Linked DNA regions of Homo sapiens: region 2 is linked to region 1. Evidence: fine-mapped expression QTL. A gene starts in region 1. The other region holds a variant in brackets. All regions are shown on one strand. Distances are from middle to middle. Region 1 holds the start of ERC2 (ELKS/RAB6-interacting/CAST family member 2). Region 2 overlaps ERC2 (ELKS/RAB6-interacting/CAST family member 2).

Region 1 (5,385 bases):
AGAGCTTGTGAAGATGAAGAAAGACATCAATAACTGTCAAAACAATACAAACCAAACCAAACCACCACGACAACAAAAAACCCTGGAGCAACAGACCATGTTTTAGAAAATATAATATGTTTTAGAATTTTCTGTCCTGAAGGGTTAGATCTCACAATGGCTACTTGTTAGCATATTGCGAGGGTGTGTTTGTTTGTGTGTGTGTGTGTTTGTGTATGTATTTGTGTACCTATACACACATATATGTGTATTTTAACCTAAAGTTAGAAAATGTTAGAGTTGAGAGCAATCTTAAGATTCTTTAGTTCCGCTTTTTATTTTCAGAAAACTAAGTCCCAGAGAGGATAAAGATGACTTGCTTAAGATTCCTATAACTTCCACTCTTCGTTTTACTATGTAGAGTCACTTTCTATTTAAAGTAATTATTCTTAACTTTTCTGGGTCAAGGACCCAATTTGAAAGAAATCTGTTGAGAACCATGAATCTTCTCTCTGTGGGAAAAATGTACATAAGCATGTACATAATAAATTGATCCCCTGAATGTCAAGGGTTCCTTTTAAAACCCACGGATCAAAGGAAAAGAGAATGGGTGGCCAACCAGAGTGAACCTCAGGCATTGATTTAAATAAATTCTTCATGGGATCACCCTGGTATGTTACCCAACTTTTCTGAAAGTTGGTAAACATCTTATAGAATATTTGTGAGAATAGTTGAGAAAATGTAAGTGCCTGCACAGAGGGGGGTACTAAAAAATGTTGGCCACGTTTCAAAAGATGTGGGATTTTAGGAATTCTCAAAGGACTCTCAACAAGGCTCTCATATACAACAAGCCTTTTGAGCAGAGGCTGTCAAGGATGTATGTGGGGAACAAAACACAATAGGTGGAGCTTGGTTTTGCCCCTGGAGCATCTAGGTCAGGAGAATGAGTGTTGATTTCTCAGAGAGAGAAAGAAGAGGATGAGGGCAAAGAGAGTCTATGAAAAACCTTAGCTACCAGAGGTGTACAGGCTTAAGGAACAGGCATTTGGGCTGGAACAGGAAGGCATCCTTGTCTCTCAGAGTCTGATTCCCTGAGCAGGAATCATTTAATATTTGAATTCCGGCGGGGCGCGGTGGCTCACGCCTGTAACGCCAGCACTTTGAGAAGCTTGAGGTCAGCGGATCATTTGAGGTCAGGAGTTCAAGACCAGCCTGGCCAAGATGGTGAAATCCCGTCTGTACTAAAAATACAAAAATTAGCTGGGCGTGGTGATGGACTCCTGTAATCCCAGCTGCTCAGGTGGCTGAAGCAGGGAATTGCTTGAACCCAGGAGGCAGAGGTTGCAGTGAGCTGAGATGGCACCACTGCACTCCAGCCTGGGAGAAAGAGCAAGACTCTGTCTCCAAAAAAAAAAAAAAAAAAATTGAATTCCTATCGGGGAGGAAAGAAGGATCCATCCTCTAATCGCTGTACTAATTCTATGCCTCTGCGCACCCAAACATCCCATGGCTGGATTTGCTTTATTTGTCTGAGCTTCCCAGCAGGAGAAATTTAGATCTGGCCACTGAAATTGCTGGAAGCAGACTCATCAGGACAGGAAGGAAATGACTGCTCTATCCCTGCAAATTGACTACTCAGTGAAAGAGACCAAGTTTAAAGATGCCCATGGCTATCCCAGTACCCTCCCTAATATAAAATGGCAGCAGCTGGGGCTCCAGACTTGTTGAGTGGAAGCTTTTTCCAATGAAAAACTTGTCCAAATCCTCTTGCTCATTACCTTGAGGTGTGTGTGTGTATCTGCCTGTGTGCGCGCGTATCAACTCAGACATCATCTTTCTACCTTAAATTGGGACAATGCAAGCACATTTCAGGGCACAGAAGAGGCACCCAGTGAATATGACGGATGCGATCTTTTCTCTTGTTCCTGTCTTTATCTTTCATTCTGTCCTTTCTTTGGGGGAACAATAAAGTGAAGATCTTATGAAATTCTTTCAACCTCCTAAGGAACATTAAAGCTGATGGACGGTGCCAGGGTATGGTAACCACGACCCCTTACTCCAATGCTTAACTTAAAAGATAAGTGCCATCCCTGCCCCTGTCACCAAAGCCACCTGACAAGTTCCCAGTGTGCCTGGCAGCTTTTGGAGGGGGGTACCCGGGAAGGGGCGTCGGGGATGGAAGATTGGGGACAGGTGCTTCGCGCCGCGGCCTGCCGGGAGGAGGCGCTGCGAAGACCCCCGCCCATGCCGGGCGCTTTCTGCTGCCCCCAGCGGAGGCGCCCGGGCCCCAGCCCCGTCCCCCCTAGCGGCTCCTCGGGAATGCTGGGAATGTGAGTCAGGGCCTCTGCGAGCGGGCGAGCGTGCCGGCCGGCCGGGTGGGGGCCCCGCCGAGCGCAGCGCCTGGCAGCGCCGCGCGAGCGCGCGTCTCGGGACTGCGGCGGGTGCCGCCCCCTCGGCCGCCGGCCCCGCCCGGCCCCGCGCCTGGCCCTGGCCCTCCGAGCAGTGTCCTCCTCCTTCCCTTCTTTCCTCCCTCCCTGTTCCCCGCCCCGCTTCTCCTCCTCTTCCTCCGCCTCCCGCTCCTGCTCGCTCGGTCTCCGGCTCCGGCGCCGGCTCCTGCTCCTCCTGGCCGCCCGGGGCCAAGGCGACGAGAGGTTGTAAAAATCCATGTGGGACGGCCCCGGGGCGAGCATCGGAAAGGTGAGACGCCGACGCCGGGGCCGGGGCCGCCTGGTGCCCGGCTCCCTCGGGGCGCCCGTGCCCGGGCATTCCTCGTGCCGGGTCCCCCTCGCTCGTGGGGAGCTGCAATGCGTTATCGTGGGGAGCCTAAGGGTGAACCATCCGCCTCCTACGGGGCTTTCTTGGGCGGGGGGAGGGATGGGGCGGCCTAAGGGAGGCTTTGCCCTGATGTATAAACCCCCGGATTGGAACAAGTGCACGGTTTCCTCCAGCGCGCGGGCGCCGCTCGCTAGCCCCGGCTGCCCGGGCCACCTCCCGCAGTCCCTCTCCGGCAGCCACCCTCACTGCCATCGCCTTTCTTCTCTCAGATCCCCCTCTTCTGCCTGGCGTCCCCTCTTGCCTCGAGGGGTGGGGTGTTCGCGGGGTCGGGGGTCTTGAGCAATCCTAAGCAGAACAAAGTGGAGAAAGGTGGAGCCCCCGCCCGGGGGTGGGGTGGCTGGCCGCCTGGGTGGGTTCAGAGGGGAGCATATTTTTTTTTAAAAAACCCGTGTCAGGGAAAATGAAGCCGATTTATCGGGGAGGGCTAGGGGATGGTGTATGAAAAGGAATACGATGTGAAATTGAACTGAACGGCATCCCTTCTCTCCTCCTCCCCATCTCCTAATTATACAAAAAAAGGGATACTTACGAAGGTGTACCTAATTAAAAAAAATACCGTACGAGCCTTTGAAAGATCGTCTTAGGACAGTGAAGATTAAGAGCTGCTTTGGTTCGGGGTAATAAAATAGCGCTCGTAAACTCTCCGTTCGGCCCTGCCTTATTTATTTTGTACTTAAGGGTCTCTGTTCTCCTTGCCAGAGAGGGAGGGTCCGCTCTTTTAGGAGTGGATCGATTTTAGGCGGCTACCTGCCTTTGCTGTATGAAAGGCAATTTACTCCCCGAGCGGTGAATTGTCGGTTCCCTCTGTGATTGACAGCCACACCTGCCACTTACGTGGGTAGAATGGGGACCGGTGGAACCCAAAGAACCAATCAATGCTCGGGAGAGGAGGGCAGCTCCCACTTGTCATGGTTAGTTTCCTGGTTGGCTCTTTAAATCAGTGATTTTACTTAACCATTGGTTTCCACCTGGTATGGGGATACAGCTGTGAGAGGCAGACAAGCGGGAAGAAAACTCTTTGAAAATGGACTTTTAGAAGCAAGTATATTTGACCTGTGTTTCCTTGTCCTCCCCATCCCTTACCCACCACCCCCCTGATTATTAGTTGTAGTAGTTGCGGATGCCGAGGCCACTGGCTTAAAAATGAAAATGAATCTGTGTAAAGAAGGAATTGGGGGAGGGGGTGTTAGAATTGCCCACCTATTTCTCCAGAATTGCAGTCTTTATAAGAGACAACATGTACCGTTGAGCTATCCGGGAAAAGGGTGTGGCACTTTGTCTCCTATGGTCACTCTTGTCCTTGTAAAGTCACATTGTTTCTCAGTATACAGTACTTGGGGCTTGGCTCTACTGGATGGATTTATAAGGTATTTTTGGAGCCGGCAAACGTTCTTTATGGGGAGTCACATGAATAGAAGGGATTCTTTTAGTTCTGACAGTTAACTCAACTTCTGGAAGTGAGGGCTGCCTTGTTCTCTTTTGCAGAATGTCAGTTCGGTGGTGGTGGGGTCAAGCCATTTTCTTTCCGGGGAGTAGTAGAGTTTGCCTTTTTCTCATGTAAGCCATCTTGTCTGTTTGCTTCTGTGCTTTAATAAAATACTTTTACAGTTTTGGCAGGGAGGGGTGTGGAAGGTGATGGTGTCATGGTTTTCACCAGCAAGACTTTCACGGGTGGATGAATCATGGGTGAAGGACCAGATCCATCTCAACTCACTACTAGTGAAAGCCTGATTTTTCAACACCCTTCTCCCTGAATTCATTAGAAAAATTACTGATTGATCCAAAGAGCTGTCACTTTATAGAAGTTGTACCTGGATGTGAACATAATTCTGTGAATTAAGCCTTTCATAAACAGACTGTGAGCCAGAATATACTGATTAGAATGGTTTTCATGTAGAAGCCGGGTTTGTCAAAGCAGTATTATTACTATTACTATCATCATCATTGTTATTGCATAGGCAAGCACTTTGTTGAGTACTTTATATGCATTATCTTTTTTAAACCTTGTGGAGCCCCTGTGAGGTAGGTACTATTCTTACGCCCAAATTATAGATGAGTAACTAGAAGGAATTCAGTATCTTGCCACAGTTTAGTATGAAAGCAAGAACCTGAGCCCGGGTTCGTCTTACCCAGAGCCCATGACCTTGGCCGTGGCCTTGACTTCAAATTTTGGTTGTGTAGTCTGCATGTGTCCAGTCTGAAGTGTGGGTTCTCCCAGCATACGTAGAGCTAACCATTTTAAGAGTCCACTGTGATTCTGACAGTCCTTTTATCAGCCTGTTTTGCCTTTGCATTTGAAGGCTGTGGCATGGGCCAATAGGCAAATTTAGTAACTCTGTTTATTATATATTTCCAGTAGAAACATAATAAAATATAAAAAATATAACACATAATAAAATAAAAATTTTGGCTCGATAAAAATTTGGTTCCAAACTTAATGATGATGACTTAAAAGAAGGTAAAACAAAACAAAATTCACACTCTTCCATTTTTCTTGACACCTTAAATTTCCAATTAGAGTTTTAAATAGATCTTGGTTGAATAAATGCTCTTAACATCCTTCAGTTGTCT
Region 2 (5,385 bases), 300 kb after region 1:
TAAAAATAAGACTTCACTTTGTCTTTGTGCCCAGGCAGATAACTGTTGTTCTGCATGGAGCTGACCTGCAGCTGGGTTAAGTTTCACTTAAAAGGTATCTTGGTATTTGGTCAAATTTAGCCTGTTTAGTTCCACAGAATATGAAAGGGATGTACTGGAACACTGTGAAGTCAAGAACTACTACTTCGCAACTTTACCAAGTTTCATATAACTGGAAAGGGGAGAGAGTTCAAAGGCAAACCTAGACTACTCAGCACAACCCAATACCCATTATGAACTTGTCTGAGTCCTGGAATCTGGTCAGAGACACTATGAAGTAGCTGCCACTTCTTTGACTGTAGGGCCTACCTAGGTTTATTTCATTCATCTTCTCCAAGGATGCTGTGTTCATATGAAATTTGTGCCAATCCCAGTTTTTCTAGTAAAGCAATTATGATGATGGCTTTTAGGCCTTAAGAATATGCCCCTGCTCCTTTTGTGGCTATTAAAAACAATAACAGCACTAACAACAACGATGTCACCTGCACCCCCAGTAATACCCAATGACAGCAACATCACTACCACACATAAGGGCTACAGCACTTGATGTGCAATAAACCTGTGAATAGGCAGAGTTATCCCCAATTCACAGATGAGAAAGCTACGGGTTAGAGAGGATAAGCAACCTGCCCATGGTCCTGCAGCTAGTCAGATTGGCAGCTGAGATTTGAACATAAGTTTCTCCTCAAAGCTCTTGCACTCTTTACTCCTTCTTTCTGCCTTTTCTAAAGATAGCCCAAAGGTTCAAACGTTTTTTCTTTCAACATTTACTTTGGAAATTGTGCATTGAGGTTTGCATCCTAGAATGGGTAGAGGCAGCTCATGAGAGATGGAGTGGCTTATGTGATATTTTTGGAAAGGTGCAGAGCTGTATTTTGTGCTAAAAGGCAAAACTCATCCTTTTTACATGCATGTGTTATCATGGCTCCAAATAGGGCTCCAAATATGTACATTACAGCCAACATATGCCCTGTTTCTCCCCCTGCATTTTAAGTCTTGCTCTGAAGTCTTTTTTTAACAGCCTGGTGTGATAACTTGTTCAAACTTGTAAAGGACTGTGTGTTTTGATGTGCAGTGTGCATTTACAATATTAGAATTATCCTTTAGCTTACTTTTTTTTCTTGGGAAATTTCTCTATCTTCTCATTTTCCAACTGGACCCCCCAATATAAAGCAACAACAAACCCCTTTATCCCATTTAACTATTTGCCTTAAATAATGGGCAAAATGTGATTTTTAAGTGATGGTCAAGTCAAATGTTAGTTCTAGATGATATATGGTTGTCACTTAGAAGCAAGTAAGATTTTTTTTTAGAAGATGAGAATTATTTCCCTTTCCCCCCAAACTCTTCTTATGATATATTTGACTCTACATGTTTGACTAAATGTTGCCAGTCAATAATTCCTGCTATTACCCAGGTTAGTTTTTGTGAATCTAACTCCTGAAGTTGCATAATAAACACCAGTGTTTACTGAGCAACTATTTTGTGTACAGCACCATGATGAGGCTTTCAGGAAAAACTGAGTTCTAAGTCTTTAAGGAGCTAATGGAATGAAGTACATAAACCAGGTTATAAAGTGACTTAAGAAGGGCAAATGAGCTATGAGGAGTCAAAGGATATCAAATAAGAGAAGAAGACAGAATGCTTTTTGGAGAAGGTAGCATTTGGAGAAAGCCTTGGAAAACTGGCATGATTTTGGTAAAGGGGAATATGGTTTATAAACAGTGGGAACTATAAGAGCCACGAGTCTAGAAAGGATAAGGAGTGTCTTTGGCAGAGCAAATCATTCAGTTTGATTGAGAGAAGACATTGTAAATTTAAAAGGTGTGGTAGATCGCATTAAACCAGTAGAAAAAGAAGGTGGAGAGAAAGAAATAATAAACATAAAAGCTAACATTAAATAAATAGAGGGTAAACATATACTAGAGTGGAGCACCAAAACTAAATGCTGTTTTTTTGAAGAGATTCACAAAAATGACAAATCCTGGTTAGAATCAGCAAGAAGAGTAGAGACAGCAAAAATAACCAATATCAGGGATGAAAGTGGGGCATCACTATAAACCTTATTAACATTAAAATATGAGAGGATTTTATTAGCAACTTTGTGATAATAAAGTTGAAATTTTAGATAAATGAAAAAATTCTTTTTAAAAACACAATTTGTCAAAACTTGCTTAAGAAGAAATAGAATATCTGAGTAGTCTTATATGTTAAAGGAAATGATTCTATAAATTAAAATCTTACCACCAAACCAAAAACCTAAAAACCCAAACCAAACAGAAACAATTAGAGGCCCAGATGGCTTTTTTGAGTGAATTGTACCAAATGTTTGAAGAGGAAATGAAATCAATCAT[A/G]CAGAAACTCTTCTAGAATAGAAAAAGAGGGAGCATTTCCCATCTTGTTTTATGAGGCCAGCATATGTTTGATATTCATACCCAGCAAATATATTACAAAAAAGGAAAATTACAAGCAATCTCCTGAGTAAACACTGATGGTAGAAAATATCCTAGTGAATTGAACTCAATGACAAATAAATGACATGACCAAGTTGTGTTTATTTTAGGAATGCAAAGTTGGACTGATATTTGGCTATCAATCATGTTATCCACCATATTAAGAGGATAAAGGAGAAAATGAATATAATTCATAGGTACAGAAAAAGCATTTGATTAATGCAACATCCATCCATGGCCCCCAAAAATGTTTTTCAGAAACTCAGAAGTAGAGGATTTTCTTAATCTAATAAGAATAGTTACAAGAAAGCTATAGCTAATATCATGTTCAATGGTAAAATGTTGAAAGCTTTCTCTATGATATAAGGAATAAGACAAGAATGCCAGTTACCATCACTTCTGTTCGATAATGCTATGGACATCCTAGGTATAAAAATTAGAAAGAAAAAAAAAACATTTTTGTTCACAAGTACCATAATCGAGTCTGTAGAAAATATCAGTGAATCCATATATACAATATTAGATTAGTAAATAAATTTAGCCAAATGGCTGGCCAGTATTTTAAAATGAATCTTATTTGTACATACTAGTTATAAACAATTAAGATATGAAATTGAGAAAACAATATCACTTACACTGGTATTAAAAAACCCCAAATATATAAGAGCAAGTCTAACAATAGCTATAAAAGACCTAATTTAAATAAAAAGGTATAACACATAACTAAATGTAGAATAACTAAAAACTTTAAACAAGTGAAACAGCTGTCAGCAGTAGGGTGGATAAAACAGTAGTGGAATATTCATACAATGAAATGCTATATGGCAATGAGAAGGACCAAGCTATTGCCATATGCAGGGGGGAGGGGGGAGGGATAGCATTAGGAGATATACCTAATGCTAGATGACGAGTTAATAGGTGCAGCACACCAGCATGGCACATGTATACATATGTAACTAACGTGTACACTGTGCACATGTACCCTAAAACTTAAAGTATAATAATAAAAAAAAAGCTATTGCCATATGCAATAGCGTAAATGAATACTATCCCCAAAATAATGTTGGAAGAAGCCAGCCACAAAAGAACATATATAATATATGTTCTCCAAACAAGCTAAACTAATTGATAGTATTAGATATCTGTATAGTAGTTAATTTGAAGAAGAGGAGGGAAAAGTGAAGGTTGGGAGGGCCAGGAAGGAGGTTTCTGAAGTACAGGTAATATTCTATTTCTATTATGTTCTGTTTTGTGATCTGGTTGGCCCAAGTGTGTTCACTTGACCACAATTCATCATTTTGAAAGTCTATGATTTGTGTACTTTCTTATATTAATACTTTAATTAAAACGTTTCTTTAAAAATAAAGAAAAAATAATTCATCAATAAAAAGATAACTGAATTACAAAACTGGGCAAAAGATTTAATTAGACATTTCTCCAAAGAAGACATACAAATGGCCAATAAGGACATAAAAAATACTGAACATCATTCGTCATTAGGGAAATGCCAATCAAAACCAGCATTAAATACAACTTCTCCCACACTAGGATGGCTAAAATAAGAAAGACAGACAATAATGAGCGTTGGGGAGGATGTGAATAATTAGAATTCTCATATGTTGATGGTGGGAACATAAAATGGTACAGCCCTCTTTGGAAAACTGTTAGCAGTTCCTCAAAATGTTAAACATAGAGTTACCACATGACCTAGAAATTTCACTTGTAGGTACACACCCAACAGAATTGCAAACATATGTCCGCACAAAACACTATCCACAAGTGTTCACGCTACCATTATTTATAATAGCAAAAGCTAAAACAACCCAAATGTCTATCATCTGATATATGAAGAAACAAAATATGGCATATCCACATAGTAGAATATTATTCATCAACAAAAAGTAATAAATTACTGATATAGGCTACAACATGGATGAACCTTGAAAACATTATGCTAAATGGAAGAAGTCAGTCAGAAAAGGCCACATATTATATGATACTATTAATTAAATGTCCAGTGTAGGCAAATTAGGGACAGAAAGTAGATTAGTGATTGCCAGGAGCTAGGGGGAAGGAGGAAAGAAGAGTTACTGCTAATGTGTACTGGATTTTGGGTGATGAAAATGTTCTGGAATTAAATAGCAGTGATGGTTGCAGAAACCTCTAAATTATACTCTTTAAAAGGGTGAATTTTATGGTGTGTGTATTATAGCTCATGAAAGCTGTTATTAAAAATAAAGAAAAATATTATAAAGGAAATGATTAATAACTTTGCTTACTTAAGGCTTACAAGAGATTCTTAAGGGCATTCTAAATATGGATACAAAAGAATGATACCTGCTGCCACAAAAACACACTTAGTACTTAGCCCATAGACCCTATAAAGGAACCACACAATCAAAACTACAAAGCAACCAGCTAGCAACTTCATTATAGGATCAAAACCTCAAATATCAATATTAATCTTGAATGTAAATAGTCTAAATGCCCCACTTAAAAGGCACAGAGTGAAAAGTTGGATCAAAAGACAAGATTTATCTGTCTGCTGTCTTCAAGAGACCCACATCACATGTAACAACACACATAGGCTCCAAGTAGAGTTGGAGAAAGATCCACTGTGCAAATAAAAAGCAAACAAACAAAAAAGGAGCAGGGGTCACTATTCTTATGTTGGATAAAACAGACTTTTAAAACCAACAACAGTTAAAAAGGACAAAGAAAGGCATTACATAATGATAAAGGATAAAGACTTTTCTAACCTAAAAATGTATGTACCCAACACTGGAGCACTCAGAGTCAAAAATATGAATTTGTAAGACTTACGAAAAGACTTCGACAGCAACACACAATAATAGTGGGAGACTTCAAAACCCCACTGTGAGCATTAGACAGA

What was found. PIP is the estimated chance that this variant, and not a neighbour inherited with it, causes the effect.
Region 2: its variant is fine-mapped to the expression of ERC2 in cerebellum (GTEx, PIP 0.96).

What each region holds. Positions count from the first base shown.
Region 1 is chr3:56,465,539-56,470,923 of GRCh38, reverse strand. ERC2 (ELKS/RAB6-interacting/CAST family member 2) reads left to right here and starts at 2,457. Exons shown (of 18, transcript NM_015576.3): 1 at 2,457-2,676. RefSeq lists an enhancer at 3,509-3,803.
Region 2 is chr3:56,163,442-56,168,826 of GRCh38, reverse strand. The region is part of intron 4 of ERC2 (ELKS/RAB6-interacting/CAST family member 2); the gene reads left to right. Among named protein-coding and RNA genes, the nearest start is that of ERC2, 300 kb to the left of the region's middle. The variant A/G (reference allele first, on the strand shown) is at 2,394.